Linked DNA regions of Homo sapiens: region 2 is linked to region 1. Evidence: fine-mapped expression QTL. A gene starts in region 1. The other region holds a variant in brackets. All regions are shown on one strand. Distances are between the middles of the regions. Region 1 holds the start of DNAJA2-DT (DNAJA2 divergent transcript). Region 2 has its middle 77 kb from the start of DNAJA2-DT.

Evidence for each region. PIP is the estimated chance that this variant, and not a neighbour inherited with it, causes the effect. A credible set is the group of variants that fine-mapping cannot tell apart.
Region 2: its variant is the best candidate, but not a certain one, in a credible set for the expression of DNAJA2-DT in spleen (GTEx, PIP 0.90).

What each region holds. Positions count from the first base shown.
Region 1 is chr16:46,965,930-46,981,597 of GRCh38, forward strand. It overlaps DNAJA2-DT (DNAJA2 divergent transcript), which reads left to right and starts at 7,843. Exons shown (of 2, transcript NR_186372.1): 1 at 7,843-8,196; 2 at 12,676-13,054. It overlaps DNAJA2 (DnaJ heat shock protein family (Hsp40) member A2), which reads right to left and starts at 7,745. Exons shown (of 9, transcript NM_005880.4): 1 at 7,566-7,745; 2 at 5,967-6,026; 3 at 5,420-5,643; 4 at 2,155-2,235; 5 at 1,584-1,717. The coding sequence starts at 7,643. RefSeq lists silencers at 6,617-6,696, 7,047-7,116, 7,147-7,196, 7,347-7,426, 7,457-7,506 and enhancers at 7,937-8,006, 8,067-8,156.
Region 2 is chr16:47,042,539-47,058,206 of GRCh38, forward strand. No RefSeq gene overlaps it. Among named protein-coding and RNA genes, the nearest start is that of DNAJA2-DT, 77 kb to the left of the region's middle. RefSeq lists enhancers at 4,397-4,476, 4,487-4,536 and a silencer at 10,246-10,446. The variant A/G (reference allele first, on the strand shown) is at 7,160.

The DNA.
Region 1 (15,668 bases):
AAAATAAAAGCAGGCCAAGAGTGGTGGCTAACACCTGTAATCCCAGCCCTTTGGGAGGCTGGGGCAGGAGAATTACTTGAACCCAGGAGTTCGAGACCAGCCTGGGCAACGTGGCAAAACCCCATCTCTACAAGAAATACAAAAATTAGCTGGGCGTGGTGGCAAGCACCTATGGTCTCAGCTAATTGTGGGGCGAGGGGCTGAGGTGGAAGGATTGCTTCAGCGTGGGCGGTGGAGGCTGCGGTGAGCCGAGAGTGTGCCACTGCACTCCAGCCCAGGCGACAGCAAGACCCTATCTCCAAAAATAATAATAATTTAAAAAAATAAAGTAAAATGCCAAGACTCTCCAGGAAGGAAATATCATATGTAACTTCTCATAATTATCTCATCACTTCCAATAGCAATTTGGAAAAGGATGCTATTGAACTATACTGTCAAATATGGTAGCCACTATCAACCTGTAGCTACTTGTTTATGTTTAAATTAATTCAAATTTAAAATAGTTCTCCAGTCACACTAGCCACATGTGAAATATGCAGTAGTCACAGGTGATTAATGGCTACTGTACTGGACACTGCAGATACAGAACATTTCCATCATCACAGAAAAAAATTCTATTGGATAGCACTGCTCTAGAATGGCAGGGGTGGGAGGAGCTATGTGTTTTTATAATTAAAATTTTAATCAGAACACAGCCATATCCATGTGTCTGTGGCCATAAAAGCACTAAAAGGTCAGAGATGAGTAGTTGTGACAAAAACTATTTGGCCCACAAAGACTAAATTATTTACTTCTGTAAGGACAGCTTCAATCTCAAGATCAATTCTGAAAAGCTAACTAAAGGTTACAGTGAAATCTTCCACTTATCAGAATAACTAAACAACTACTTGTTTAGTTATTTATTATTTGATTATTTGTCCCTTTGTAGTTTAAAAGGTTCTATGTGATAAAGGAGATAGTCCTCCTATGGTGGTCATTCCTACAGAGAGAGTAAATAAAAGGTTATATTTGATAAAGAAGGAAATAGCAAAGGGACAAATAATCACCTTGCTCCTCTTTTCTGAATTAAAAAGAGTCACCTTTCACTAACACAATACAAATCTACTGTTTCTCTATGTTCACTGGGCTTAGGCATAATGGAGTAATTACTTTCACACTTTTATCTTTTATTTTTTGCAACAGGGTCTTGTTCTGTCACCCTGGCTGAAGTGCACTGGTATGATCACAGATCACTGCTCCCTCGAACTCCTGGGCTCAAGCAATCCTCCCGCCTCAGCCTCCCACGCAGCTGGGACCACAGACATGCCCTGAGCCCCTCATTACATATTTTTCCACACTTTTTTTTCCTATAGTAATGAGGTCTCCCTATATTGCCCAAGCTGGCCTCAAACTCCTGGGCTCGAGCAATCCACCTCTGTCTCCCAAAGTGCTGGAATTATAGGAATGAGCTAACGCACCCGGCCTCCTTTTTCTTTAATAAGATGTATACAAATACCCTTTGAAATAAAAAATTGTAAACCTCTCCAATATCTGCATTCCCAATCCATTCCAACATAAAAGCAGAGAAGTACTGGCACACATACCTTCTCCATTACAATCAGAGCACACAGACTGCATCTGTTGTACCATCCCTGGAGCCAGCTGTCTGATCATGATGCGCACACCTCGACCTCGACAAGCACTACACTTTTGGACAGCTCCAGACTTTCCGCCTTGGCTAAAGCAAGCACAAGTTATGCATTAGGTTTTTGTCCACAAACCACTCCAATAAGCTATGACACACAGAAATTGTGCTTTTACCTTCATCTTCAACCCCAATAACTTGTATTTAAATTGACTTCCAGAAGTATCAGAAAACATTCTGCTAAGATTTTTTTACTTATTTATTGAGATGGAGTCTCACTCTGTCACCCAGGCTGGAGTGCAGTGGCGCAATCTTGGTTCACTGCAACCTTCACCTCTCGGGTTCAAGCGATTCTCCTACCTCAGGTGATCCACCCGACTCGGCCTCCCAAAGTGCTGGGATTTCAGGTGTGAGCCACCGCACCCAGCCGTAAGTTTTAACTTATAACAATTTTTACGTGGTACAGACATTCAGTGTGATACTTAAAAGAACAGACAAAATGTACCCAATAAACCAGAAGACACACTTACCCACTGCATGCACTACAGAGCACATTCTTGCTAAGTTGTAGTTTGGTTGTCTTGCCATTATACAGATCTTCTAAAGATACTCTGGAAAGAAAAGAATCGGCTTCAATCAAATTTTGCCACATTTTGTCAAATACAAGATATAAGTAACAGCTGATACAGCAAATTCGTTATCAACTTTTAAAACAGAATTCAAAAACACCTCATAATCTCACATTAAATCAATTAAACTGAGGCTTATATTATGGCTCAAATTAACAGAAATATTTTATGACTACAGACAGTACATATATGATACCCAAAGCCAGAGCCTATAGCATCAGGCCAACAATTTGCTGTGGTGGAATTTCTGATAAAGCTGATGACTTCGCAAACTCAAATATCACAACCTTCTGTTCTGAGGCATAAGCCCTCCACCTAACTCCTAATAAAAACCCTTCAGAAGAGGTACAATTATTATTCCCATTTTATGTGATAAAACTGAGGCACAGAACAGTCAAGTAACTTGCCCAAGATCACATAGGTATCTGGCTCCAGAGTCCCTGTTTCCTCCATGGACAATTTAGAAAGGCTACAAAGTTATATTTCGGCTTAAGGGAGTCACTTAGATGGCATATGTCTTAAAAAAAATAAAAGTGGCCCTACCTATAGTATGACAGAAAGGAGGGATAGAATAGTTTTTCATGCCAGGTGCAGTGGCTCATGCCTATAATCCCAGCACTTCGGGAGACTGAGGAGGGAGGATTGCTTGAGCCCAGAGTTCAAGACCAGCCTGAGCAACTTAGAGAGACCTCATCTTTACCAAAAAATAAAAAATAATTAGCCAGGTGTAGTGGCATGTCTGAAGTCCCAGCTACCCAGGAGGCTGAGGCAGGGGAATTGCTTAAGCCCTGGAGATTGAGGCTGCAGTGAGCTGAGATCGTACCACTGCACTCCAGCCTGGGGGACAGAGTGAGACAAGTACTTATGTGTGGAGTTTTCTACTTGTGGCATCATGATGGTGCTCAAAAAGTTTCATATTTTGGAGCATTTCAGATTTCAGATTAGTAATGGTCATCCCGTAATGATCTGCTTTAAAATCCTGGGAGTTAGAGGAACAAAAAAATAGTTTAAAGTATTTTACAAAGCACCTATACTATTTTGTGATATTCAAACTTTCTTAAAATTGTTATTCTCAGAAACTTAAAACTGTTGTAGGCAGGATAAGAATACCACACGTATGGACAAAACATTACCAACAACACTGTCAAATAATGACCTATCAACAGCTGAGCTTTAGACCAAAACGCTTGTTGCATCTTGTATACTCTGCATAACAAATCATTTAAAGAAAATCGGCTTTCTTCCCCTACATATTAAATTACAATTGGTATGCACAACCAGTATCCTAAGCCAGAGAAAAATACACATCTCAACAAAGAAGGCCAAGGAAGGAAAAATGCAGGTAATGGTTTGGCAAGGCTGGCACTCTCCACTAGTGGGGCCTAAACTGGCACAATCCCTCTGCAAGGCAATTTAGTTGTATTTATCAGCCTCAAAACACTCATGCCTGCCTGGGAATCTCTGCCAAGGAGAAACAAAGCTCTACATAAAGATACTCATAGCAGCAGTATCTATTACAGAGAAAAAACCTGGGAATACCCTATATAAAAGGTAAATAAATCATAGAATGCAGTATTATAAACATAGTATTTGTAATAACAGGAAAATCTGAAATGTTAAAACAGCAGAAAACTTTCACTATATAGCATAACTTTTTTTTAAACATGAAGAACTATAAAGTACAGACAGCACTCTTTTGACCCTATTTTCTTTTTAGACCATTTCTATATTAAAGAAAAATATAAACGAATTAACCTGCACTGCACAAATATTACCATTGGAATGGTATCCAAATGTTAATTTCTGAGGGTAAATTCTTTTAAAAAACAAATTTAAGGATTCAATGAGACTCAAAGTTAACAGATAACATGACTTCCTCTAATTTACTCAAGTGTATAAACTAGGATATTATGAAATATTTTAAATAAGTACCTGAACTTCGGCCACTGACATTTGCTAATAAAATCATTTATTGGTCCATGAAAAAAAGAATGGGAAAAAAGACCTCCCAGATTTTGCAAAGTGAAACAGCTATTTTCATACTGGAGAGGGCTTGTGGATTCACAGTCTAAGACCAAGGTCAGGCACCATTCATGTGTTGGCAGGTTAAGGTCAGGCTGGAAGCCAGCAAGCTCCATGGAAACCAACTCAGAAGAGTTCACACTGAGGATCAAGTAATGAGTGACTCTAACATGTACACAAAGTAGGCAGACAGTCACTCATTTTTAGTTTTTAAATAAAAGGTAACTTGGAAGATTCATATACTTCAAAGAAAATAGGCTGGGCGCAGTGGCTTATGCCTGTAATCCCAGCACTTTGGGAGGATGAGGCAGGAAGATCACTTGAGTTCAAGACCAGCTTGGCCAACATGGCGAAACCCTGTCTCTACTAAAAAATACAAAAATTAGCCGGGCATGGTGCGGGTGCCTGTAATCCCAGCTACTTGGGGGGCTGAGGCAGGAGAACTTCTTGAACCTGAGAGGAGGGGGATGCAGTGAGCCTAGATGGTGCCACTGCACTCCAACCCGGGCGACAGGGACTCCATTTCAAAAAAAAAAAAAAAAAAAAAAAAAAGGTCGGGCACAGTGGCTCACGCCTGTAATCCCAGCACTTTGGGAGGCCGAGGCAGGCAGATCACCTGAGGTTGGGAGTTCGAGACCAGCATGACCAACATGGAGAAACCCCATCTCTTCTAAAAATACAAAATTAGCCGGGTGTGTTGGCATATGCCTGTAATCCCAGCTACTTGGGAGGCTGAGGCAGGAGAATCGCTTGAACCCAGGAGGCAGAGGTTGCAGTGAGCTGAGATTGTGCCACTGCACTCCATCCTGGACAAGAGCGAAACTCGGTCTCAAAAAAAAAAAAAGAGAGAGAGAGAAAATGATCTTCACAGTTGAAATTTTAAGTCCTATAATAACAAGCAGCCTCAGAACCATATAAAACCACCTTCCTCTCATTAAAAAATATCGACTGTCCTTTTAAGAGCTACAGCGAAATAGAAACATTCAGATAATCAAATTCAATTTAGTCACCAAAAGAAGACAAGGCAAATGGAAGTTTTTCTAATGAAGGACAGAACACTCTATGAGATTTTTCATCTACTGAGTCATTATCCCACTTGACAAAAAGTACTTAATTTTTTAAAACAACAAAACAAGATATTCACTTGAGTGGATGCATCATGTCCTCTCCTCTTCTTCTGCCATTTCGACTTCTACTCTGATTGCCCATGAAGCCGAACAATCCCCCACCAAAAATGTGAGAGAAAATATCATCCATGCCACCACCTCCGCCGCTGCCTTCCCGAAGACCTTGCTCTCCGTATCTGTCATATAACTCACGCTTCTCAGGATTTGATAGTACTTCATATGCAAAACTTATTTCTTTAAACTATAAAGAAAAGGTAAAAATAAAAATAATTGCATTTTCAAGTAGAAGAGTGGGGAGAAGCTACAGGAATCCAGAATCCATTTAATTCTAAAAAAAAAAAAAAAGGGACAAGTTACCTTTGACTTGATTCTGGTTCTATTTACCACCCACCGCTCCTCAGAATGGTAGTACTCTTATTCTAAAACTAAAATACTCTTGACATTATGAAAATGTGGCTGTGTGGGCATAGTTGGATTTTTTTCCTGCAACATTCCTCTTTTTCAAGGAGGGCAATTTAAGTTAAAGCTAAAACCCCCGGAATAAAAAAGGTGCAAATAACTTACTTTGTCTCCTGCATTTGGATTCTTATCAGGATGATATTCCTTGGCTAACTTTCTGTATGCCTTTGAAAATGGATAAAAACAAAAAAGGTTATAACTAAACACCAGTTAAAAGTTTTGTAATAACTTAATATCCACTTTTCTGAGAAGTAATGTTCTAGAGTTATAACCTTTCAAAAATATTTTCTATTCGTAGGGATTCTTCGGCACTTTCTCGCGATACTGTTTACTAATGTAATATAACCAAGTAGACAGCAGCTATACTTGAAAACAGGTTACAGTGACGTGAAAACCAGATAAAACAATGAAGCAATGCCACAGGGAAAAACAAAACGTTCAAACATTATCCATATTTTCCCTATTGTCAAGTGTCTTTGATGGCCAAGTAACCAGACCAAGACGACCCTAATAAATTCGAGATAAATGACTGTTAAGCTTTGCGGACTGCAAAACATTACTATAAATCAAGCTAAAGTCACAATTCCTGCTCCCGATGGCTCACGCCTTCCTTCTAACTGTAACATCATGAAAAAGTAAAGGTGGTCCTAGTTAGCGTCTTTTGGTGTTTTATTTGCACGTGGTGGTTAACTGGGGTCGTGGTGGCAACTTCGGTGGTAGAGAAGTTGCACACACTCTCAACGAGGTGTTTGGGTCCTAAAGCACTTAAATCTTCATTCACGGAGGCTCGTGAATTATATAATACAGACTAGCATTTCCGGTAAGGTAACAGGAAGTCCACTGTACTCTTCTCACTGCCTAAGGAGCATTCTCATTTTTCTCGGCTTACAAATCTGGATGCTCTTAGCCTGGTGAGGATGCTGTGGGGCTTAAATGCCTCGTGTGCTTTGAAATCCTGAGATGAAAGATATCGCAGCATTGCAAATAGCAATAATAAGGCCTTCTATTTATGTTTACTGTACACTCAGGCGTTTGGCTGGGACCACGGCTTATTCCTAAGCAGGTACAGGACATTAGCATTACCTGCCCAAAGAACAATGCATCCAAACACAGACCCAGCTACCTCCGGGTCAATGGGCGAGGGACGCAGAGAGGGAGGAGCTCCCGCAGCCGGCGGCCGCGGAACCCAGGAAACAACCCCATCCGCCCGAGGCGCTCTGTGGGGGCGGCCTCGACCTCCCCGCCGTTCCTCCCCGCGGAGCACCAGACCCGGGGCCGACGGCCGCGGGGCGGACAGCTTCTCTCTCGGGGCCGGGATGCGCTGAGCACCTCGGTCCAACCTGTTTTTCCGGGGTGGTGACCTCGACGCGAAGGACCGGGCGAGCTGCTGCCTCCCGGGGGATACCAGCCCCCGGCGCTCGTTCAAGGAGGGAGGAAGGAAGGGCTCCCATCGTGTTTGCGCAGGAGTGAGTTTTATTTGCTGCATCTGCGGGCGGGCGGGGCCGGCGGCCCCAAGGTCAGCCGAGGCCGGAGTGCGCGGCTCGCGGCGAGGCCGGTCCCGCCGCCGCCGCCGACTCCCAGCCCGGGCCAGTCACGGCCGGCGCCGGCTCGCGGGCAGCCCAGTAGCGCGGCCTGGCTGAAGAAGACATCCCTGGCCGCGCAGGCCCCGCGCCCCTCACACCCGCCCGGCCCGCTCCCAGATACCTTCTTCAGCTCGTTCTCGCTGGCGCCGGGCGGGACGCCCAGGATGTCGTACAGCTTCGTGTCAGCCACGTTAGCCATGGCGGCCGGCCGGGCAGTGCTCGGGGAGAAGGTGGCGAAGCAGACAGAGCGGAGTCGGGCCCACAAGCGGCGTCGGCGGCGGCACAGGCCGAGGGAGACAGCGAGGGGGAAGCGGGGGCGGGGCTGAACTTTGACCCAGCGCACGGTGCGCCGTGACGTCGCTGTGCAGAGCCCGCCCCCGAGCGCCCGAGGCGCGGCCACTGGGGTCGAAGTATTGAAGAGTGGGCCAGGTTCTCTGTTTTCCTCCAGGTCCAGGCGGCTGGGCAGGGCCAACGTAGGAAATGAAGAACTGTGCACGGCGCACCCCAGGAATTCAGCTTCCTCTCAAAAGCCATGGTTGCGAGGTCGCGTGTTTAACCTCGCACTGGCTGCTGAGGGAATTAACAGGCCTGCGCAGCAGCTTCGTTAGCTTCGAAAGAAAATGGGCCCCGGCTCCCGCAGGAGGCCCGCCTGGCGCGCAGATGTCGTTATTAGAATCCGGGACGTCGGTGGACCCTCTGGGTCTGGCTCCCTCGGGGCTTACGATGAAAAAAACTGGGGGGCGCGTGTGTGTGTATGTTGTGTTTTATATTATGAGAATTCTGAAACATTTAGCAGAAGCAGTATATTACTCCCCATAGTGCAGTTAGCTACCTTTTACCTGTTTCATTGGCTCCACCATACATTTCTAGTGTTTTAAGGGAAACCGTTTCATTCATAAATACCCTAAGTGTATATATTTAATATCTAAGAGACAACTTTTAAAGGCATAACGATGTAATCTCATCTAATGAAATTAACAATTCCTTAATCTAATTCCCAGTCCATATTTAGGTTTTTCAGATGATCTCATGTCCTTTTACAATTGGTTTGTGGCATCCGGGTCCAAACCAAGGTCCACATGTTGCATCTGGACCACGTGTTTAAGCCTCTTACTTGATAGCTTTAAAATTAGCTAACACCAGAGGTTTAGATGGTGTAAGGCAAGTCTGGCCACCAGGTGACTTGATTTACATTCGTTTTAGTTTCGCTCAGAAAGTATGCTGTGCATCTACCAAGTGCTATGATGTACAGAGGCCTGGTCCGGGGAGAGGAGTGTTACAAAAGTGCCTGCCTTCAACCCATTTACGGTTTATGGAGACAGAAAAGTAAGGTTTTCTGATCCCTTGGAACCTGAACTGATAGCAAAGACTTCAGCATAAGCATCTCACTCAGGATAATGTTTCTTCCTTGGCGTTCCCTTTGACCTAGTTGTGGAGGGCCTGAATTCCATGACAAGGACTCTGAAATTTAGCTTGAAAACCCTAAGAGTAATCAGTGATAAGTCATTAATAGTCCTTAAACCCTTTTCCTCAAATCCCATCTGAAATCCTGCTCCCTCTGTGAAGTCTTCCTTTACTGGGCACTGGTGAACACTGCTATCTCATTCGAGTTCCCACCACCCTTCGTTTGTACCTTTTGTGGTAGGATCTCGAACTCTTTTGTTTTTTTTTTTTTTTTTTTTTTTTTACTTGAAACAGCGTCTCGTTATGTCGCTCAGGCTGGAGTGCAGTGGCGCCATCTCAGCTCGCTGCAACCTCCACCTCCCGGCTTCAAGTGATTCTCCCACCTCAGCCTCTCGAGTAGCTGGGATTACAGGCGCCCACCACCATGCCCGGCTAATTTTTGTATTTTTAGTAGAGGTGGAGCTTCACCATGTTGACCAGGCTGGTCTCGAACTCCTGATCTCAAATCATCCACCCACCTTGGCCTCCCAAAGTGCTGGGATTGCAGGCCTGAGCCACTGCCTCTGCCAACCGCCATTGCCGTGTAAATGCTGACGTCATCCTCATGCACGGCTGTAAAATCCAATTCTCTACTTTTCACATTTTGAGATGTTCGTAAGAGACGGTGTAAAGTTATGGCGAGGTTAGACTGTGTAGGTTGGTAGTCTGACTCTGCCATTTAGGAACAATGTGACCTTCAGCAAGTTACTTAACTTTTCTGAGGTTTCCTCAGGTGTAAGATGGGGCTTGTTATTTTTTATATCATTGGTTTAAAAGAGTTATACATTTCTATTACTTAGGGCTGGGCGCAGTGGCCTGTAATCCCAGAACTTTGGGAGGCTGAGGCGGGATCACTCCTGCCTCAAGTCCTGATCACTTGAGGTCAGGAGTTCGAGACCAGCCTGGTCAACATGGCAAGACCCCGTCTCTATTAAAAACACAAAAATTAGCTGGGGGTGGTTGCGCACGCCTGTAGTCCCAGCTACTCGGGAGGCTGAGGTGGGAGAATCCCTTGAGCCCAGGAGGTGGGGGTTGCAGTGAGCCAAGATCACACCACTGCACTCCAGCCTGGGTGACAGAGTGAGACCCTGTCTCAAAATAATAATAAATAATTAAAATTTAAAAAATTACTAAGAAGCTAAAAGAAATTAAGTATAAACTATTGTTCTTGGCCCATATGCTTACGTTGTCTTTGCTCATTTAAATTTCTGGCTTTTCTACTGGGATTCCCTGACTTCTTCCATTACCTATGGGGAATGCCCCTCCGTCCCTTTTCATGACCTCATCTTCCCAAATCTCCTTGCTTGTCAGTTATCATTTTCTCTCGTCTCATTTCTCTGTTAGTTCCTGCTCCACGTAAGAATATGAACTGAAAATCTGTCTTTGTTGCAACCTTCATATTAATTTATCTTATTTGTTTCATATTGTTTTATCTTATTTTCCTTCTGCCCATGAACAGTTTAAAAGGGCTGGAGTTTCCTATTTGTTTCAGTTTTACTCAGTTTTTTTTTTTGCAAGAGGAAAAAATTCTCTCTTGATGCCATTTTAGCTTCTGATATTGTAATGAAGAGTAGCTGGGTAAATTCCCTCTTTTGTTCTTGTTATTTTATTTTAGTTTTTTACCTGACTAGACCAGTAACCACAGTAACTATTTTTGAATTTCATTTTCATTTCTTTGCAATATTTTCTCCATTTCTGGGTATTAATTGTAGTCAGCATAATTTGCTAATTTTATAGCTCGAGTTATTTCAGAAGAACTTTGTGTGCTTAAACTGACACAGGGTCTCCTCCCAAGGATCACAGACTGAGATAAACCTGTGTCAGTGTGAGCACTGTAATGTTCCAGCCACTAACTGTTTTGAGGTAGCATATTTATTTTGGCTTCATGTTTAGCCAATGCTGTGAAGGGAAAAGGACCTTTATCTCATTTCATGTCTCAGGCACTGTAAAATGCTGAGTCACAGTACACCTGAGCGCTGCAGTGATCTAAAGTTTGAGGCGGCAGTGATTTCAGATTTCTGCCAGGCTTATATTGGTGTTCAATTCCTTTGCTTTGATTTAGTATGCTTGTGTAACTGTGAAGGGTTGGGATGGAGAGGAGGTGGATATGGACTGGGACGGGGGGTATAGGAACTGTAGTATTTTTGAAGACCATTGATACTGTTCACAAGTAATTGGGAACTGTGTAATCCATTACTTAGACAACTCCAGATATATCATTGAGGCAGTCAGAAAATAGTTTTGCTTTCTGCTTTAACTAGGTTTGAATGTATAGAGTAAGTGATGCAGGTTAAAATATTTTGGGGGGATACAGAAGAAGGTACTGATGGTTCTTGTTATGAGGGTGTCAGGACCACATAATTTGATGATTGTTGGTACTCTGGAAAGAAAAAATTGTGGGACTTGGATCACTGAATAATCTCTGAATTTCTTTCAGTGCTTAAAGTAGATTATTCAGTGATGGGGCAGCACAGTTGTATGTGGTAGGTATTTCTAGCCCCACTGCTGGCCTTTCAAACCCAGTCGTGTCAAACCCTGCCTTATTAATTAGCATTTTCCAAAGGTTCAGTTTGCTTATATAATTGCAGTGGTATAGTAAGCAGAGAAATTGACCCAATAAATTTAGCCATCTAACAATTAGTGTGGGAAAAATAGTGGAGAAGATATGTCTATTGTGATAATATGAGATATGAATATGAATATATATGTTTTCCACATATATGTGTATATATATACACACACCTCATTACCACTGTAATATATATATAATATATACATAATATACATAAAGGCCAGGCGTGGTGGCTTATGCGCGTAATCCCAGCACTTTGGGAGGCCAAGGTGGGTGGATCACGAGGTCAGGAGATCGAGACCATCCTGGCTAACACGGTGAAACCCCGTCTCTACTAGAAATACAAAAAATTAGCCGGGCGTGGTGGTGGGCACCTGTAGTCCCAGCTACTTGGGAGGCTGGGGCAGGAGAATGGCGTGAACCCGGGAGGCCAAGCTTGCAGTGAGCGGAGATCGCACCACTGCACTCCAGCTTGGGCAACAGAGCGAGACTCCATCTCAAAAAAAAAATTCGATTAGCCTGGACAACATAGCAAGACCCGTCTCTACAAAAATTTTTTAAAATTAGCTGGGGCTGGGGAGTGGTGGCTCATACCTGTAATCCCAGCACTTCAAGAGGCCGAGGTGGTAGGATAATTTGAGACCAGCCTGGGCAACATAGCGAGTTGTTTTTTTTTTTTTTTTTTGAGACGGAATCTCACTCTGTCACCCAGGCTGGAGTGCAGTGGCACGATCTTGGCTCACTGCAATCTCTGCCTCCCAGGTTCAAGTGATTATCCTGCCTCAGCCTCCCGAGTAGCTGGAACTACAGGTGTTTGCCACCATGCTGGGCAAATTTTTTGTATTTCTAGTAGAGATGGGGTTTCACCATGTTGGCCAGGCTGGTCTCGAACTCCTGACCTCAAGTGATCTGCCTGCCTCGGCCTCCCAAAGTGCTAAGATTACAGGTGTGAGCCACTATGCCCGGCCCGCAAGATCTTATCTCTAAAAAAAAGAAGAAAGAAAAAATTAGCTGGGTGTTGTGCACCTGTCATCCTAGCTATTTGAGAGGCTCAGGTGGGAGAATCACTTGAGCCCGAGAGTTGAAAGTTACAGTGAACTATGATTGTGCCACTGCCCTCCATCCTGGGTGACAGAGTGAGACCCTATCTTTAAAAAAATATATTTTTAATTATGAGAAGAGAAGGAATTATCTGACCTATCTTGTCTGATTGTAGGTCATGAGACTTCCATTTCTGAAGGGGTCCTGTTCCATATCCTCAAGAAGGGAGTGCTGCACAGAGAGGCCATGAGGAATCTAAGCAGACAGGCCTTGCTGGGTTTCCCCACTCAGTCTGTTAATATTAGATCATACCTTTTTGTCCAGTCACATTTTTACATGGTTGTCAATTATGCCTGTCCAGTAAAGTCTCCATAAAAGGCCCAAGAAGACAGAGTTGGAGTTCCTGGATAGCTGAACATGTGGAGGTTCCTGGAGGGTGGGGCACCTGGGCATAAAAGCTCTGAGCCCCTTCCCTCATACCTTGCTCTGTGCATCCCTCCATCTGTATCCTTTGTAACATTCCTTATAATAAATTGGTAAATGTGTTTCCCAGAGTCCTGTGAGCCACTGTAGCAAAATTAATCAAACCCAAGGAAGGGTTCATGGGAACCCTAATTTCTATTCAGCTGGTCAGAGACACAGGTGAAACAACCTGGGGCTTGCTATTGGTATCAGAAGTGAGGCGACTGAGCCCTCAACCTGTGGGATCTGATGCTACCAAGTAGATAGTGTCAGAATTGAGTTGGAGGTCACCTACCTGGTGTCTACTGTATAATTGATTGCTTGCTTGTTGGTGGGGAGAAATCCCCACATATTTGGTCACAGAAGTCTTCTGTGTTAATTGAGTGCGAGAATCTGAATCTGAGTTTTTTTCACTTATCTATAGATTCATTCATTCAACAAATATGTGTTGTGGACCCTCCTATGTGGCAGGCACTGTTTGGTAGGATAGGGGACAGCCATAAACGAAACAAAATCGCTGCCTTTACAGAATGTACATCTAGTGGGGAAGGCAGGCAGTAAATAAGTAAATACATAGCATATCAGATGGTATTATGTGCTGTAGAGAAAACGAGAGTATTGGGGTTGGGAACAATTTTTATTTAAGGTGTTTGAGGAAGGTGACATTTGAACAGTGATCTAGAGGAAGCAGGGCCTTGAGGATATGTGAGAAAACAATTGCTGAGGCAGTGGGCCTGCAAAGGCCCTAAGGCAGAGCATGCCTGGTTTGTTAGAGGAAGGAGGCCAGTATGACTGGGTAGCAGCAAGGTAGGGAGATCTTGGAAAGAGCTCACATCAGAGAGGTTGTCGGGGACTCAATCAGGTCCACTATAAAGACTTTGATGTTTACTCTGAGTGAGCTGGGAAGCTGTTAAAGGGTTTTGGTTTTTTTGTTTTTTGTTTTTTTTTTTTTGAGATAGAGTCTTGCTCTGTCACCCAGACTGAAGTGCAATGGCGCCATCTCCACTCATTGCACCCTCCACTTCCTGGGCTCAAGTGATTCTCCAGCCTCAGCCTCTTGAGTAGCTGGGACTATAGGCATGTACCACCAATGCCTGGCTAATTTTTATATTTTTTGTAGAGACAGGGTTTTGCCGTGTTGCCCAGGCTGGTCTCGAAACTCCTAAGCTCAAAGTGATCCGCCTGCTTCAGCCCCACAAAATGCTGGGATTACATGTGTTAGCCACCACTCCTGGCTATGCTATTAAAGGATTTTGATTAGAGGAGAGACATAAGTGCATTTTAAACACATCATTCTGTTAGCTGTGTTGAGAACCTATTGTAATAAAACCTAGGTGAGAGGTGACTTGGGCCAAGATAGAAGATGTTGAGTTGGTGAGGAATCGGCTTCTGGATATATTTTCACCTTTGAACTGATAGAATTAGATGTTGGGCAGAAATGAGGGCAGGGTGAAAATAAAAGTTCATGTTAATTTATTAACATTCAAGGAAATATTTTTTAAATTAAATTTATTTTTGAGACAAGGTCTCACTGTATCACTCAGGCTGGAGTACAGTGGCAAGATCAAAGCTCACTGCAGCCTCAAACTCCTTAGCTCAAGCAGTCCTCCCACCTCAACCTCCTGAGTTGTGTGCCAACTCACACTTGGCTAATATTTTTATTTTTTGTAGAGACAGGGTCTTGCTCTGTTGCCCAGGCTGGTCTCAAACTCGTACGGTTTTTTGTTTTGTTTTTTTTTTTTTTATGAGACAGAGTTTCGCTCTTGTCGCCCATGCTGGAGTGGAATGGTGTGGTCTCGGCTCACTGCAACCTCCACCTCCCGGGCTCAAGCGATTCTCCTGCCTCAGCCTCCCAAGTAGTGGGGATTACAGGCACCTGCCACCATGCCTGGCTGATTTTTGTAATTTTTTAGTAGAGATGGGGTTTCACCATGTTGGCCAGGCTGGTCTTGAACTCCAGACCTCAGGTGATTTGCCCACTTCGGCCTCCCAAAGTGCTGGGATACAGGTGTGAGCCACTGTGCCCGGTCCAATGTTTTAATGTATGTATAATATACATTGTGGAATGATTATACCAAACTGACATATCCATCACCTTACATACTTATTTTTTTTGTAGTGAGAACATTTAAAATCTGTTCTTTTAGCAATTTTAAAATATACAATACATTATTGTTGACTACGGTTACCATGTTGTGCAACAGATCTTAAAACATTATCTTCCTGTCAAACTGAAAGTGTACACTTTGGTCAACATCTCCTCATTCCTCCTCTCCTCACAGCCTCTGATAACCACAACTATACTTCCATAAGATTTTTAGATCCCATATGTAAGCAAGATCATGTGGTATTTGTCTTTCTGTGCCTGGCTTATTTCACTTAGCATAATGTTCTCCAGGTTCAATTCTTTTGTTACAAATGACCAAATTTCCCTCTTTTTTGTCCGGGTGTGGTGGCTCACGCCTGTAATCCCAGCACTTTGGGAGGCCAAGGAGGCTGATCACCTGAGGTCAGGAGTTCAAGACCAGCCTGGCCAACACAGTGAAACCCCATCTCTACTAAAAATAAAAAAATTAGGCCGGGTGTAGTGGCTCAGGCTTCTAAACCCAGCACTTTGGGAGGCCGAGGCATGTGGATCACCTGAAGTCAGGAGTTTGTGTCCAGCCTGGCCAACACGGTGAAACCTTGTCTCTACTAAAAATACAA
Region 2 (15,668 bases), 77 kb after region 1:
GCGAGCCGAGATCGCGCCACAGCATTCCAGCCCTGGCAACAGCGAGACTCTGTCTCAAAAAAAAAAAAAAAAAAAAAAAAAAAGAGAAACCTTTGGGGAGATGCTGACCAAAATGTTCACTGTGGTTATTTCTGGGTGGGGGGATTGTGGGTGATCCTCGCTTTCTTCTTTTCTCATATGCGTGGTGTGCATGTGTTTAGTTTGTTTTCTAAAGTTTGCATACAGCCCCAGAGATAAAATCATCAAGAGAGGAAGAGAGAGAGAGAGATCTGCAAAAAGCCAGCAGGAAAGGCAAAGCAATGAAGAGAGAATAAAGCGAGAAAGAGAAGGTCCAGAAGAGGCAGAGGATACCTCAGGGGGAGGCAGAGGGCAGAGGGGACAATGGCTATTTCCTGGAGGCCTGGGTGTGGCCCTGGATGGGAGCAGCTGGTGCCCTCAGAACCCACAGTCTTGTTTTTTTTTTTTTTTTTCTGAAACAGAGTCTCGCTCTGTTGCCCAGGCTGGAGTGCAGTGGCGCGATCTCTGTTCACTGCAACCTCCACCTGCTAGGTTCAAGCAATTCTTCTGCCTCAGCCTCCCAAGTAGCTGGGATTACAGGCATGTGCCACCACACCCAGCTAATTTTTGTATTTTTAGTAGAGATGGGGTTTCACCATGCTGGCGAAGCTGGTCTTGAACTTTTGACCTCAGGTGATCTGCCCTTGGCCTCTTAAAGTGCTGGGATTACAGGCATGAGCCACCGCGCCCTGCCAAAGCCCATAGTCTTTCCAGGGCCCACAGGCCTGGTGGCGACTGGCCCCATAGCTGCTCATGGGCTGCCTCCAGATGGCACGACAGTCTCCCTTCCCTCTGGCTCTGTAGGCAGCCGCGGCATCTCTGCTGGTGATGGAGGCAGCAGATGTTAGATGTGGCTGCAGCCCAAAGTCCAGGCTGGGGCAGCTGTTAGGAGACAATCCTCCATGGGCCTCACATGTCTGCACATCTCGTGAGCAGAGGGTGCCTTGGTTCTAGGTGATCTTTCTAGGATGTTTGTACAACAAACAACCTTAGAGGTGAGTGTTAATGTTTCCTCCTGGAGCGAAAAGCAGATGTGCCCACTGCCCATTATAAAATATTCTGCTCCCCGGCTGGGCACGGCAGCTCAGGCCTGTAATCCCAGCACTTTGGGAGGCCAAGGCAGATAGATTGCTCCAGGAGTTGAGACCAGCCTGGGCAACATGGCAAAACCCTGTCTCTACTAAAAATACTAAAATTAGCTGGGTGTGGTGGTACATGCCTGTTAATCCCAGCTACTCAGGAGGCTGAGGCACGAGAATCACTTGAACCTGGGAGGCAGAGGTTGCAGTGAGCCCAGATGGCGCCACTGCACTTCAGCCCGCGTGACAGAGCGAGACACTCTCAAAAATAAATAAATAAATAAATAAAAATAAAATATTCCACACAACCCCTAAGGAGCCCTAAGCTCAGGGCTCCTTTTCAGGAGGTTTTCACTGCACACAACTTTATATGGTACATTAGACTCTTCTCAGAAACAGGGAGGCAGTGTAGCCTGGCAATTAATAGTACAGACTCTGAGAGGGAGCCTGCATAAGCTCAAATCTCAGCTCTACCACTGCTGGGCATGTGGCCTGGAACAAGCCACTTAACATCGCTTCCCTGCAGAAGGTGATCTGAGAGTAAACACTCTAAAGAAAGGGTAAAGCCGGGCCGGGCACGGTGGCTCACACCTATAATCCCAGCACTTTGGGAGGCTGAGGCCAGGAAGGATTGAGGCCAGGAGTTCGAGACTAGTCTGGACAACATAGTGAAACCCTGTTTCTACAAAAAAAAAATACAAAAATTAGCCAGGCATGCTGATGTGCACTTGTAATCTCAGCTACTCGGGAGGCTGAGATGGGAGGATCAGTTGATCCTAGGAGGCCGAGGCTGCAGTGAGTCATGATTGCACCACTGCACTTCAGGCTGGGCAACAGAACAAGACCCTGTCTCAAAAATAAATAAATAAAACATGAAAGAAAGAAAAGATGGGATGAAAACCATTTGGCACTTGTTCTATTAAAGATTAACACAGCCAGGCTTAGTGGCTCACATCTGTAATCCTAGCACTTTGCGAGGCCAACACAGAAGGATTGCTTTAGCTCAGGAGTTTGAGACCAGCCTGGGCAACATAGTGAGACCTCATCTCTACAAAAAAATAAAAATAAAAATAAAAAATTAGCCAGGCATGTTAGCACATGCCTGTGGTTCCAGCTACTTAGGAGGCTAAGAGGAGAGGATCACTGACACCCATGATTTCAAGGCCCATGATTTCAAGGCTGCGGTGAGCCTGGGTGACAGAGCAAGATTCTGTCTCAAAAAAAAAAAAAAAAAAAGAATACATGACTACCCTACGAACCAAAAATTGTACTCCTAGGCAGATACCCAACAGAAACACAGCCCTATGTGTGCCAAAGAAACATGGACTAGAATGTCCAAGGCAGTGCTAGTCACGATAGCCAGACTGGAAACTACCCAAATGCTCATCAACAGTAGATGAAAAACAATTATTTCCACAGGAGAGACGTTGATGAAACAATGAGAATGATTATCTAAACTACATACGACCACGTGATTGAATCCTGCAAATGTCTTGTGGGGTGGGAGAAGCTGAGTGCAAAGCATCTATGGTAGGACTCCATTCACAGATACAGAAGCAGGCATGCATGTCGGCCGTTAGAGGTCAGCTTTGGAGACAGCGAGTGACTGGAAGGGAAGTTTCTGGGAGCTGAGTGTGCTCTGTGTCTTGAACCGGGTGTGAATGTTAATGATGTACTTTTCTGTATGTAAATTATTTTCCAACAAAAATTTAAAAAGTGGAAGGCAATGGTTGGAATGGATTTAATTCAAGATAATGGGAGTGGGTTCTTTGGAGCCTGAAAGGATTGTTTCAGAAAATTCCACAGGCTCCTGTTCTCTTACAAGGCCAACAGTGCTGGAGCAGAGAGCATTTAGATGCCTTCCAGGAAGTGCTGTCCGTAATGGGACTAAGAGGAACGGGTTTAATAACCTTCCTATGCTGGCCGTACTTTGTGGTTTTCAAAGCACTTATCTGATCTGCATTTACTGAGTGTGAAAAAATTGTTATTTTAGTGGTTGGCACTTCTAAAGAAGGGTGCCCATTTAGGAAGTAAATTTCCCTTTCCTCTCCCCTCCCCTCCCCTCCCCTCCTCTCCTCTCCTCTCCTTCTTCTCTTATTTCTCTCTCTCTCTCCCCCCCCCACCTCTTTTATCTCTCTCTCTCTCTCTTTCTCCCTACCTCTTTCTTTCTCTCTTTCTCTTTCTTTTTTTTCCTTCAGGGCTTCACTCTGTCACCCACTCTGTCTGCTGGAGTGCAGTGGCATGATCACAGCTCACTGCAGCCTCAACCTCCCCAGGTTCTGGTGATCCTCCTACCTCAGCCTCCCTAGTACCTGTGACTGCAGGTGCATGCCACCATGCCTAGCTAAGTTTTGTACTTTTTGTAGAGAAGGTGTTTCACCATGTTGCTCAGGCTGGTCTTGAACTCCTAGGCTCAAATGATTCACCTGCCTTGGCATCCCAAAGTGCTGGGATTACAGGCATGAACCACTGTGGTTGGCCTGGATCATCTAGTTGCTCAACAGAAATGCAAAAAAAAATTTGAGTGAGGCTGGATGTAATCTCCAAGGATTCGCAGAAATCTTGGGGCACAGGGATATCAGTTTTCCATTGACAAGGGATCTGAGGTCCCTGCCAGTTTCATTTAAATTTCAAGAATAGGCCGGGAGCGGTGGCTCACGCATGTAATCCCAGGACTTTGGGAGGCCAAGGCAGGTGGATCGTGGATCACTTGAGGTTAGGTGTTAGAGACCAGCCTGGCCAGCATGGTGAAACCCCGTCTCTAATAAAAATACAAAAATTAGCGGGGCATGGTGGCACATGCCTGTGATCCCAGCTAGTCGGGAGGTTGAGGCATGAGTCTCACTTGAACCTGGGAGGCAGAGGTTGCAGTGAGCTGAGAGCACGCCACTGCACTCTAGCCTGGGTGACAGAGTGAGACTCTGTCTCAAAAAATTTTTTTTTTTTTCAAAGAACAGCATGACTGCAGCAGGCTTACACCTGGGTATGGGGAGATGGGGAGGAAGGCTTTGTGATCCCGATTACACAGGATAAATCAATCCCAGAGAGGTTAAGAAACGTGTCCGAGATTACATAGTGAGTGTGGCCCCGTGGGATTTGAACCACTGGGCATAGAACACCTGGAGAGGATTTGGACCCTGAAAGTCCTGCTCCTGCCGCCAGGTTTCCAGGCTGGCCTGACTCCTGCCCTCCTCCAGGCTGGGAAAGTCCACACAGCCCACTTTTTCATCTGTGAGCTGCCTGGAGCCTTCTGATGAATCAACTTCTCTGGCCTTGATAAGTCAGGGCAGGTTTCTGAGCTTGTCCTTGAAGCACCCATCTCACAGATGTGATGAGGCCTACCCTGTGTCCAGCCTTAGCCTGGTCCTGGACATGCGGACCCAGCCCCTCTCCTAGAGGAGCTCACAGTCAGGAGTGGAAGCAGGGGGCAGCTGTCTTCAGAAGGGGATGTGCACAGGCTGCCCGTTGCACAGTGCTGATGCTGGGCTTGCCCAGTGACCACCGCCCTCAAGGAGCTGGGGCTGGAGTAGTAGAGGATGGGGGAGGAAGAAAATGTCCCTAATTTGCAATGACAGGCTTCTAATCTATAAATAGCTTTCGGAAATAGAGCAGAGAGAGAGAAAGAGAAGTCATTTGCAGGCTTACATTCAATTCAACAGCAGCCTTTTTCTTCCTTCTGAGACAAGCTATTTGAGTCTATTCAAACTGAAAAAAACAAAAACCACTTTGAATGACCAAATAATCTATTCAGCCATCTTGATGCCTCTCCCAGCTGGGAATTCACATTTTAGGCAGCCTTTGTCCCAGGGGTGGGTGAAGGCAGGTGAGTTCTGAGTGTGGAGGTGGAACAGTGAATACCCAGGCCCCTTTCCACCCCTCTCTCCAAGAAGTGTACCTGCAAACTCCTCAGCACCAGCCGCCACCATGGGAGAAATTCATTAGCAGATCTGGTTTTGCATAATTTAGTAGCTAGCATTCACAAATTAAGTCTGCTGGCTCCCCTCGTGGTAATGGCCTTTAGAGAGATGTGAGAAAACACAGGCTTGTAATCCCAGCAGTTTTCTGGAGCTGATAATTAATAACAACAATAAACTGCTAATAAGACACATCAGTTTTTCCTTCCACTCATGTCTTCTTGCTTGTTCCTCACCACTGCAGAAGAGGAAAGCAGATCTGATGTCCTCCATCTGATAGGCAAGGGAACTGAGATCTGGGGAGGTGTTCCCAGCTGGGGAGGAGGCTGTTCTGGAATCTGCCTCTTCAGCCGGCCTGGGGAGGGTCCTGGTGCCCTCTGAGCTCAGGGCCATGGCCCACTCAGGAGGCCACTGGGGGACCATGGGAGAAGCAGGGCTCGGGAGCACTAAGCCTCTACCCACAGTCTGCATAGCAGGAACCTCAGTCCTTGCTGGAGTCCTTGGCAGAGCAAGTCCTTCGATTAGCAACACCATCAACAGCTGCAATAATCCAAAGCTAATCTTTGTCAAGTCCTTTCAGCCACCAAACACTCTTTCTGCATGCACCATCTCATCAATAACACACAGTTGCCCATGAAGAAGGTACCTATCACCTTTTTGCTTTGTTTTGTTTTGTTTTGAGACAGTGTCTTGCTCTGTCACCCAGGCTGGAGCGCAGTGCTGCAATCAAGGCTCACTGCAGCCTCAAACTCCTGGGTTCAAGCGATTCTTGCACCGCAACCTCCTGAGTAGCTGGGACTACAAGCGGCACCACATGCCCAACTAATTATTTTTTGTATTTTTGTGGAGATGGAATCTCACTATGTTGCCAGGCTTGTCTCAAACTCTTGGCCTCAAGCAATCCTCCTTCCTCTGCTCCCCAGAGCACTGGGATTATAGTCGTGAGCCACTGAGCTGGCCAAATATCACTTCAATTCACTGGTGAGGAAATGAAGGCTCAGAGAGGCTCCAACAGACCCCAGTTGGAGTGGCTTCCTGGTCCCCAGAGCGTCTCCTTCTCTGGGATCGATCTGGATGCAGGTAAGCCTGGCGGGTCTGCTTCTGACATATGGCCTTGTCCCCTTGCCAAAGCTGATTGGGCCAGGAATGGGCTACTGGTCTCTGTTTGGCCAACCACAGCCTCTGTCTGGGATGCGTTAGGCTGGTGCTAAGGCAAGGGAGGCAATATCCCTCTGGCGATGGCTGGAGCCATGGCAGCCCTGCTCTTCCCCTGCACAGGAGGCCAGGCAGCAGCAGGAAGGCAGCTTCAGAGATGGGGAGCGCAGGGACAGGCAGCATCCTGTGGTGTTTGAGTCCTTTATTCCAGTTGTCCCTGAGGCACCCCAGTGGTGACCAGCCCCGGTATCCTCTGAATAAGCCCCCTTTACTTGAGTTGGTTGGATTCAGGTCTCTGTCTCTTGAAACCATGAGTTGTAACCTAGGACCTTGGCTGGGGTCCCTGGGAAGCATGACGTGGCAGGGACTGGAGTCTTGTCCCCTCTCCACCAAGGCTTCCAGGGCCTCCCGGGACTCTCCTCCTTGTGGGTCTCTGCAGGGATTGCGGCAGCCAGGGAAGGCCCCTGGTTCTCAATGCCCGCTGCAGAGGAGCCCCAGTGAAGGGCAAATAGTACTGAGACTACACCCTCTCTGAACCCCCAAATCACAGCACCAGTGTGGCACAGGGCTTATTCATGCCACCCCTGTGTTCTGGGCAGGACTGCCCGAGCCAGCCATGTGGGGCCTTGATTTTTTGAGGGAGAGGAGTCCATGGTCACCTTGTGGTTGGCGGGGTTCGAGAGGCAAAGGTGTCCATGAAGTGGCCCCTGGCCTTTGCCCTGGGCAGGACTTGGAATCCCTGGAGGCTCTCACTCCAGGAATCAGGGTGGAGACATCCCCTGCCTTCTCCCCACTCACCCTGAGGGCCTCCCTAAGTGATCAGGAATCCAAAGTGTGCTTTCCATGATTTGTGTCTCCTCTCCATCCCCCAAATCCCTTGCAGAAAGGTTACAGGCTCCCACTGCGCCAAAGAATCCCCCAGCCCAGTGCATGGGCAGCTGCGCATGCAGGGCT[A/G]TGGTTGGAGACCACGGCTCTGCCCACTGCTAGCCTTAGGACCTTTAGGCGCGTTCTTCAACCTCTGCATGTTTGAGGCTTCTAAATCCATCACAAAAAAAGACGACAGTAATAGCGAGTAACTGCCTTATGGAATGATTGTTAGGACTCAAAGACATATTACAAGTCAATTGCAGCACTCAGTGAGCTCAGTAAATGCTGGTTAGAGGCAGCAGGCCAACAGAGGGAAAGGGATTCGCCCAAGGTCCCACTGTAAGTCAGGACTCAGCTGGGACCAGAAGCCAGACCTCCTGGCCACTGGTTGATCTCCTCTAAAGACCCAGAAAGCACCGCACTCTCTCCCCCACGCCCACCCCAGCACCCACTCGAGCTGCCAAAGACTCGCAGAGGCATGTGGGATGCCCAGAACCAGGGCTTTATGTTTGGCAGCTGCCTTAGGAAGGGAATGCGCTGGGGAAGGGGCAATGGGTTTCTGTGGATTGGAATTTATAAAGTGACAGTTGGTTCTGGTGATTCAGGCAGTGATTTGTGATTTATTGACACATCAGAAAAAGCTGTCAACCCACCCCAGTCAGCTCCTTCTCTGGAAGGCACCACCAGCTGGGAGCCCCCACCCTCACTCCACCCCTAAACCAGCCCTTTGGAAGTGGGATGTGGGTGGCAGCCTCCCTCCCTCCCCCAGCAGGTGGGGGTATTGACCTTGCTGCCCACAGATGACCAAGGGACAGGGTGGATGTTATTTGGTGAGGGGTGTGCACCGTGAACTCTTTCCTTCCCTATGAACATTTCAGTGAGGTTGACGTTACTTGCTTAAGGGTGTACGTGCAAGCTCATTTCCGTGAGTGGGGTGGCGGGGCACTTGGGCAGGTCTGTGTGTCGAGTCCTGGGCTGTTCGGGAGAACAAGGAGCTGGCTTCTAGGATGCGGGGCTGAAGATGTAGGATGGAGAGGCCCCAGCTGCCATCTGGAGGATGTGGCTGATGGGAAGGGAAACCTCTCCTTTTCCTCTTCTGCCTCCAAGACCTCTTCAATTTTTGTTCAAATCAAGACCATTGGTTATCTTTACAATAATGGTTTTAAAAATCAATAAAGAAAATGTATCAGCAACTGAGAAGAGGTCTTGAAGGCAAAATAACTGGATGAAGGAGGAGCAGATGACAAAGGGGGAAAGAGTCCTAGAGGACGGCCAGGTCCCAGGAGAAGGCCAGGAGCGGGCTCTGACATGTGGAGAGCTTAGGCCGCAACTACGAGGACAGCCTGGGAGTTGTGCCTTCTGTCCACAGGCCAAGGTCTCTGTGGTTCACAAAGTCTTACATGTGGCTGAACCACATACACACCTGCAAGGAGGGTGGAACAAATATCACCATACTCCTAGGTCACAGGCGAGAAAACCAAGGCGTGAAGATGCCATGACTTTCCCAAACTCACATAGGCGAGTCACGGCAGGGCCTTGATGGACCCCCAGTAGCCCATCTGGCACCTTCGGGGAAACCCAGCCCTGCAGGTAGGTGCACAGCTGGCAGGTGAACCCTGCGAGACAGACGTGGGGCACAAGGCACACAACTGCACCCAACAGCCCTGGCTTGGGCTCGAACCGAGGTCTCTGAACTTCAAAGGCCCAGCTCCTTCTGCCCTGCTAGAGCAGTCCCATGAACGATGAAGGAGGATGAGGAAGGGCCTGGAACTCCATGATGGGCAGGCCCCTGGAGCATGCACTGCACTATTTGATTTTCTCCTGTCTGGTCCTGGGCCAGGCTTTTCTCTGGGTGGAGGTCATCGAGGCACATGCTGAGAACTGCCATGGGTAGGAGTGGCCCGCACTGTGTGCCTCTCCTCGACATGTGACCAGCTGATGCCCAGAGCTTGGTAGAGACTTCACACTGTTTCTAAAAAAAAAAACAAATCATCTTCTACAAAACGTCTATCTCCTGGTGTCACGAAGCCACGGACGACACCAGAAAAGGGTGGCCTGTGGAATGTGGCCTTCAGTTGGACACTGCCCTCGGAAATTTGTCCCCGACTCTATCCTTTTTTTTTTTTTTGAGATGGAGTCTCACTCTGTTGTCCGGGCTGGAGTGCAGTGGCGTGATCTCGGCTCACTGCAACCTCTGCCTCCTGGGTTCACGCCATTCTCCTGCCTCAGCCTCCTGAGTAGCTGGGACTACACGCACCTGCCACCACACCGGGCTAATTTTTTGTATTTTTAGTAGAGACGGGGTTTCACCGCAGTAGCCAGGATGGTCTCGATCTCCTGACCTCGTGATCTGCCTGCCTCGGCCTCCCAAAGTGCTGGGATTATATGTGTGAGCCACCACTCCCCACCTTCTATCCCATTCTAAGTGGTAAGTACTACAGCTGGAAAGGGGTAAGGCCAGGACCCTCCCCAGTGAGGACAGGGACTCTTTCCCCACTGTATGAAGCTTACTGCATCTGTCCCTGCTGCTGGACTCCAGCTTAAATGGTTAGCAAGAGGCCGGGCATGGTGGCTTACACCTGTAATCCCAACATTTTGGGAGGCTGAGGTGGGAGAATCGCTTGAACCCAGGAGTCCAAGACCAGTCTGGGCAATGTAGCAAGAACCCATCTCCACAAAAAAATAAAAATGTTGGCCAGGCACGGTGGCTCACGCCTGTAACCTCAATACTTTGGGAGGCCTAGGCCGGCAGATCATGAGGTCAGGAGATCGAGACCATCCTGGCTAATGTGGTGAAACCCCCGTCTCTATTAAAAATACAAAAAATTAGCCGGGTGTGGTGGTGGGTGCCTTTAGTTCCAGCTACTTGGGAGGCTGAGGCAGTAGAATGGCATGAACCTGGGAGGTGGAGCTTGCAGTGAGCGGAGATCGCGCCACTGCACTCCAGCCTGGTCAACAGAGTGAGACTCCGTCTCAAAAAAAAAAAAAAATGTTAGCCAGTTGTGGGACAGCACATGCCTGTCATCCCAGCTACTCTGGAGGGTGAGGTGGGAAGATCGCTTGAGCCCAGGAGTTGGAGGCTATAGTGAGCTGTGATTGTGCCATTGCACTCTGGGCAACATAGCAAGACACTGTCTCTAGAAAAAACAAAACAAAACAAAACAAAACAAAACAAAACAAAACAAAAAAAACAGCCAGCAAGAACTTTGTGAGCAGCCCCAGGTCCTGGCCTTGAGCCAGTCCTAGCAGGGAGAGAGGAAAAGGCTGAAGAGATGGCACACATGGTGGAAAAAGCTCAGCTTTAGGGGCCAGACAGGAGGCTTCAACTTGCAGTAACACTTCTGTTTGCCTGTGTGTCTGTCTGTCCACTTATCCATCCAATACCCAGCACCCGCTTTGTGTAGAAGTTTCTGGTGGAAAGTACTCGCAGACACTGAGGGGAGAGGCTGAATCCAGATAGCAGTTTTTCCCCTGGTGGGTTCACCACAGTCCCTGGTCCAACCCTCAGCCCCAGGCTCACAGTCTCTACCTGGTCAGCATCTCAGACTCAGGAAGGCCAATGCACACCTCCAGAACCCTCAGAGACAGAGGCAGAATATCTACTCACCGAGAGATCACCCGTGAAAATGAATACTGCCGGGTAGACCAGAGATCTGTATGGCCTGACCAGCCCTCTTTCCTTGCTGGCCAATGACATGGCAGGCCTGGGTTCATGGTGGGCACACGTGACGGAGGTCGGTTAGGGATTCCAGTGACTTGTGCCCTGGGAAGTGGTGGTCTTCTCCCAGTGTGGTCCTGCCTTCCTCCGGAACCCGTTAGGTCAAGCATTTCTTCTTTTAATGAACTGAGACAGGGCCACTTGCTCTGCTGGACACTGTTCTGGTCTGTCTCTGGCACTGGTTGCCCTCTCCTCTGCTTGCAGAGCTGGCCACCCCCTTCTCACAGACACATGCTGCCTTTATTTTTATTTATTTATTTTTTTGAGACAGAGTCTCGCTGCATTGCCCAGGCTGGAGTGCAGTGGCCACGATCTTGGCTCACTGCAACCTCCACCTCCTGGGTTCAAGCAATTTTCCTGCTTCAGCCTCCCGAGTAGCTTGGATCCCACCACGCACCACTAACTTTTTGGTATTTTTAGCAGTGACAGGGTTTCACCATGTTGGCCAGGCTGGTCTCAAACTCTTGACCTCAGGTGATCCACCTGCCTTGGCTTCCCAAAGTACTGGGATTACAGGCACGAGCCACCATACCTGGCTGGAACACATGCCGTCTTTAGACACGTTTTTGGTGCTCATAATAGGTCATGGTTGGCCTTGCTGTTTCTCTAGTGTGACAGCGCATGGTTCTGCTTTGCCCTGAGCTGATTTTATAGTTTAACTCTTGGAAAGAGACCTTTCTCTCTGTTTTCTTTTTCTTTTCTTTAATTTTCTTGAGGCGGGGTTTTGCTCTGTCGCCCAGGCTAAAGTGCAATGGCATGATCATAGCCACATGGCCTTGACCTCTTGGGCTCAAGCAATCATCCCGCCTCAGCTTCCTAGGTAGCTGGGACTACAGGAATGAGCCTCCATGCCTAGCTAATTTATATATATTTTTTTGTAGGCACGGGGTTTTACCATGCTGCCCAGGCAGGTCTCAAACTTCTGGGCTCAAGCAATCCTCCTGCCTTGGCCTCCCAAAACCTTAAGATTACAGGTGTGAGCCACTATGCCCATCCCTCCCTGTTTTCTAGTCTTCGAGGGCACCTTAATTCACTTCAAAACACACTCTCTTGGCACAAGGAACATGGAGGTGAACAGTACAGGTCTCTCCTGGCCTTCCTTACCGGTTGGGAGGGAAGGAAAGCCATGCCCTCGCTCATCCGGGCTTCCTTTCTGTGCACTGCAGGCAGATCATTTGCTTGCAAGGATGCAGGCTACCAAGGAAGCCATGGCCAGGCCTGGTGGGGAGCAGACGCCAGTAATGCTGCTGGGGCCACCGCTGTGGTATTCTGGGGTGCGAGGGCTTTGGCTCTCCTTCCCTTTGGGTGTCTTTCATTCTTGGGCTGTCCCTTCTGGGGAAAGGGAGTCCTAAGATTACTGATATTGTTAAGGGATCTTTGAGGAGGATGTTGATATTCTTCCTGGAAACTTCTGTGGCTCATGGGCCTTCACCTGAGTTCTAAATGAGGTACTCAGACAAGTGAAGGATGAAGAAGACAAAGAGAAGCTTTATTTAGTGTTAAAACAGCTCGGGAGATCCGCAGTGGGTAGCTCATCTCTGTAGGCAGGTTGCCCATCCAGTTCAGCTCTCAGCAGAGAGGAGGCCCTGGAAAGGGTAGCTCCTCTCCAGGAGGCTGGTTATTCCCACGTCTCTGCAGGTCTCTGAAGCTCTGAGCAGAAAGGATAGCCTCTCTCTGTAGCTGGTCTTCCTGTCCTCTCTCTGTCCTTCACCTTCTCTGCCCTGCTCTGGCCATCCTCTCTCTTGCTCTGGCTGAGCCCAGGGCTTTTATGTCGCTCAGAGGGGAGGAAGTGCATGCCCACTGGTCCATGGGTGGCCATGGGTGGGCCTGGAAGAGGCACCATGAGTCCGCACTCAGGTCCGCAGGACTGGCAGCCCAGCCCCCAGCCTTCAGGCCCTCTCTGGCCTGAAGGTGGGGCCTTACTGGGGTCCCCCGCTTCCACCCAGGAATCTGTCTGCCTCCTGCTGCCATTCATGACCCCTGGGGCTCGGCCCTAAGCCCTGCTCCAGTATCGGAGTGGGCGCCAGGACGGGAGAGAAACCAGGCAGCAGGAGCAGGGACAGGAGGCTGGGCGGTCTTCCCCAGCCGCCTTGAGGACGCAGGCTGCAGAGATGCACTGGGCCTGTGCCTGGGAGGGTGGCCGCAGCTGCATCCAGGAGCTCCTGTCCCACCAACCTGGAAGGGGCAGGACTCCCGCTTGTCCCCGGCTCCGGCCTGCTCTGTGAAGCGGGAGGCCCAGGTCTGCAGCCACAGTTTGGGGGACTGCAGCTGCACCCGCAAGGGCAGATCCTGCCTGCTCCCGGGCCCCCTTCAAGAGCACAGCGAGTCTTGGATCCACAGCCGCAGTTTGGGTGGCTGTAACCCTGCCCAGGAGGGCGGGGCGTTTGCCTGCTTCGTAGAGCAGGAGGTCTGGGTCTGCAGCCACGGTTTGGGCAGCTGCAGCGGCACCCAGGGAGCTACTGCCCCAGCTCAGAAGGGATGGGGCTCCCACCGGCTCCATGGAGTGTGCAGCCCACCGCTCTGCCTTCCTGCTGCCATCAGTATCTCCAGGTAAGGCAGGTTGCACTGGCTTTTGTGCCCTTCGTCCATCCTATCCTCAGCCTAGAGGTCTTAAGGGCTGAAAATGGAGTCAATAATTTGCCTTTTAGTGGAATTTTTGGCTAAGTTCCTAATGGTGCACTTCCAGCGAAGTGGGCATGCTTAAGTCTTTGTTAGAGCTTCCAAAATTCAGTACAGTAGAAGTTTCTCTCTCACTGGGGGACCTAGGGCAAGTAATTGAGCCCCATCTGAGCCTCAGTTCCTTTGTCTGTACAATGGGGATGGAAAATGCCAGAACCTATCCTACAGGGTCATTGTACGGGGCTTAGAACAGGCGCTGGTGTTGGCAGCCAGGAGCGGTGGCTCACGCCTGTAATTCCAGCACTTTGGGAGGCAGAGGCGGGCGGATCACAAGGTCAGGAGATCGGGACCATCCTGGCCAACATGGTGAAAGCCCGTCTCTACTAAAATACAAAAAATTAGCCAGGCGTGGTGGCACGCGTCTGTAATCCCAGCTCTTCAGGAGGCTGAGGCAGGGGAATTGCTTGAAGCCGGGAGGCGGAGGTTGCAGTGAGCTGAGATCACGCCACTCCACTCCAGCCTGGCAACAGAGCAAGACTCCGTCTCAAAAAAAAAAAAAAAAAAAAAAAAAAAAGAACAGGGGCTGGGGCTTGGGGGCAATTGCCCCCTAAATGTCAGCTCTTCTTATTACTTGGCCTGTCCTGGAAGCTGACTTTTTAAGGAGCAACTTTCTCTGCCTCTTTCTTTTTATTGGTTTTTATTTTCACTCATTCTAGTTGGAGGAGTAACTGTCTTTCTTTCATTCTTCTCCCTCCTTAGCCTCTGCCACACTCCTTGGGAGCCCAGCTCACTTTCTTCAGGAAAGGAAGCATCTGCAGTGGGGTTTGGAAATCTCATTGCTTGGGGGCCACTGGGGGTGCTTTGGCAGTGATGCCCCAGCCCAGAGAAGACCTCGCTTTCTTCTTTGAATTAACTGAAATCTCTGCCTCCCATGAGTTCTTGTCAGGAAAATTGCTCTCAATCACTTACAGCTATTTCCCTTTCCAAGGATCTAATTTTCCTAATTCCCAGAATGCTGCCCTAATTGTATTGTAGTTTCTGAGAAGGTGACGATGGTAGGGGCTGGGTGTATATGTGTGTATCTGTGTGTGTCTGTGTGTGTATCTGTTTGTGTCTGTATGTGTGAGGGTGTGTCTGTGTGTGTGTCTGTGTGTGTCTCTGTGTCTATGTGTAAGGGTGTGTTGTGTGTGTTTGTGTGAGAGGGTGTGTGTGTCTATGTGTCTGTGTGTGTCTGTGTGAGGGTGTGTGTCTGTGTGAGAGGGGGTGTGTGTGTCTGTGTGTATCCATGTGTGTGTGTCTGTGTGTGTCTCTATGTGTGAGGGTGTGTGTGTGTCTGAGAGGGTGTGTGTGTGTCTGTGTCTGTGTGTGTATCTGTGTGTGTGTGTCTGTGTGTGTCTCTGTGAGGGTGTGTGTGTGTCTGAGAGGGTGTGTGTGTGTCTGTTTGTGTCTGTGTGTGTATCCGTGTGTGTGTGTCTGTGTGTGTCTCTGTGTGAGTGTCTGTGTGTGTCTCTATGTGTGTCTGTGTGTGTCTGTGTGCGTCTCTGTGTGTGTCTGTGTGCATGTGTGTGTCTGTGTGTATTTGCCAAATGGGGTTCCCAGCACAGGGAATGGGGATCTCTTGGTGACTTCCTTTTAAAGCCTGCATTTTCCTGGACACTGAAGGTGTCCCAAAGACCCTGGCCTCCTTCCCGAGTCTCATCCACTGACCTGAGACAGTGGCTGGGAAACAGTCCTGGGGGTGAGGATGAGGCCACCTGATTTGACCAGGAATGAGTCAGAAACGTTGTGGACTTGAAGAAGGCCAGCTGGAGGTCTTGTTTTCAGCAGCCCTGCGGAGGGCAGGAAGGTTGGCAGAGGAGATGGCGTGAGCTCATGCCCAGTAGGACTACTGTGGCCCAGTAGGTCCCACAGAGCAATGTCCTCTCCTGTCTCCTGGCGTTTACTCAGGCCTGGTATGGCCAACTATTGTGGCCTCATCTGAAGCAATGTCTGTGTGCAGGGAAAATTCCAATTCTCTTCCACAGCTCAAACAGAACTTCTGGCACCAAATATGTGGGTTTTTCCACACTAAGCAATTCTCCAATTCTCTGCAGATACCAACTGGGCATCCAGTAACTCAACCCAATTCCCACAGGTGGAGGGCTGCTGCATTATTCCATAAGACCATTTCCCATGTCAGACACCAACTGCAGGTCGTGGGTCCCCAGGTTACCCACGCTTCTGTCCCACTTGGCTATAGATAAGAGGTTCCCAAAACCC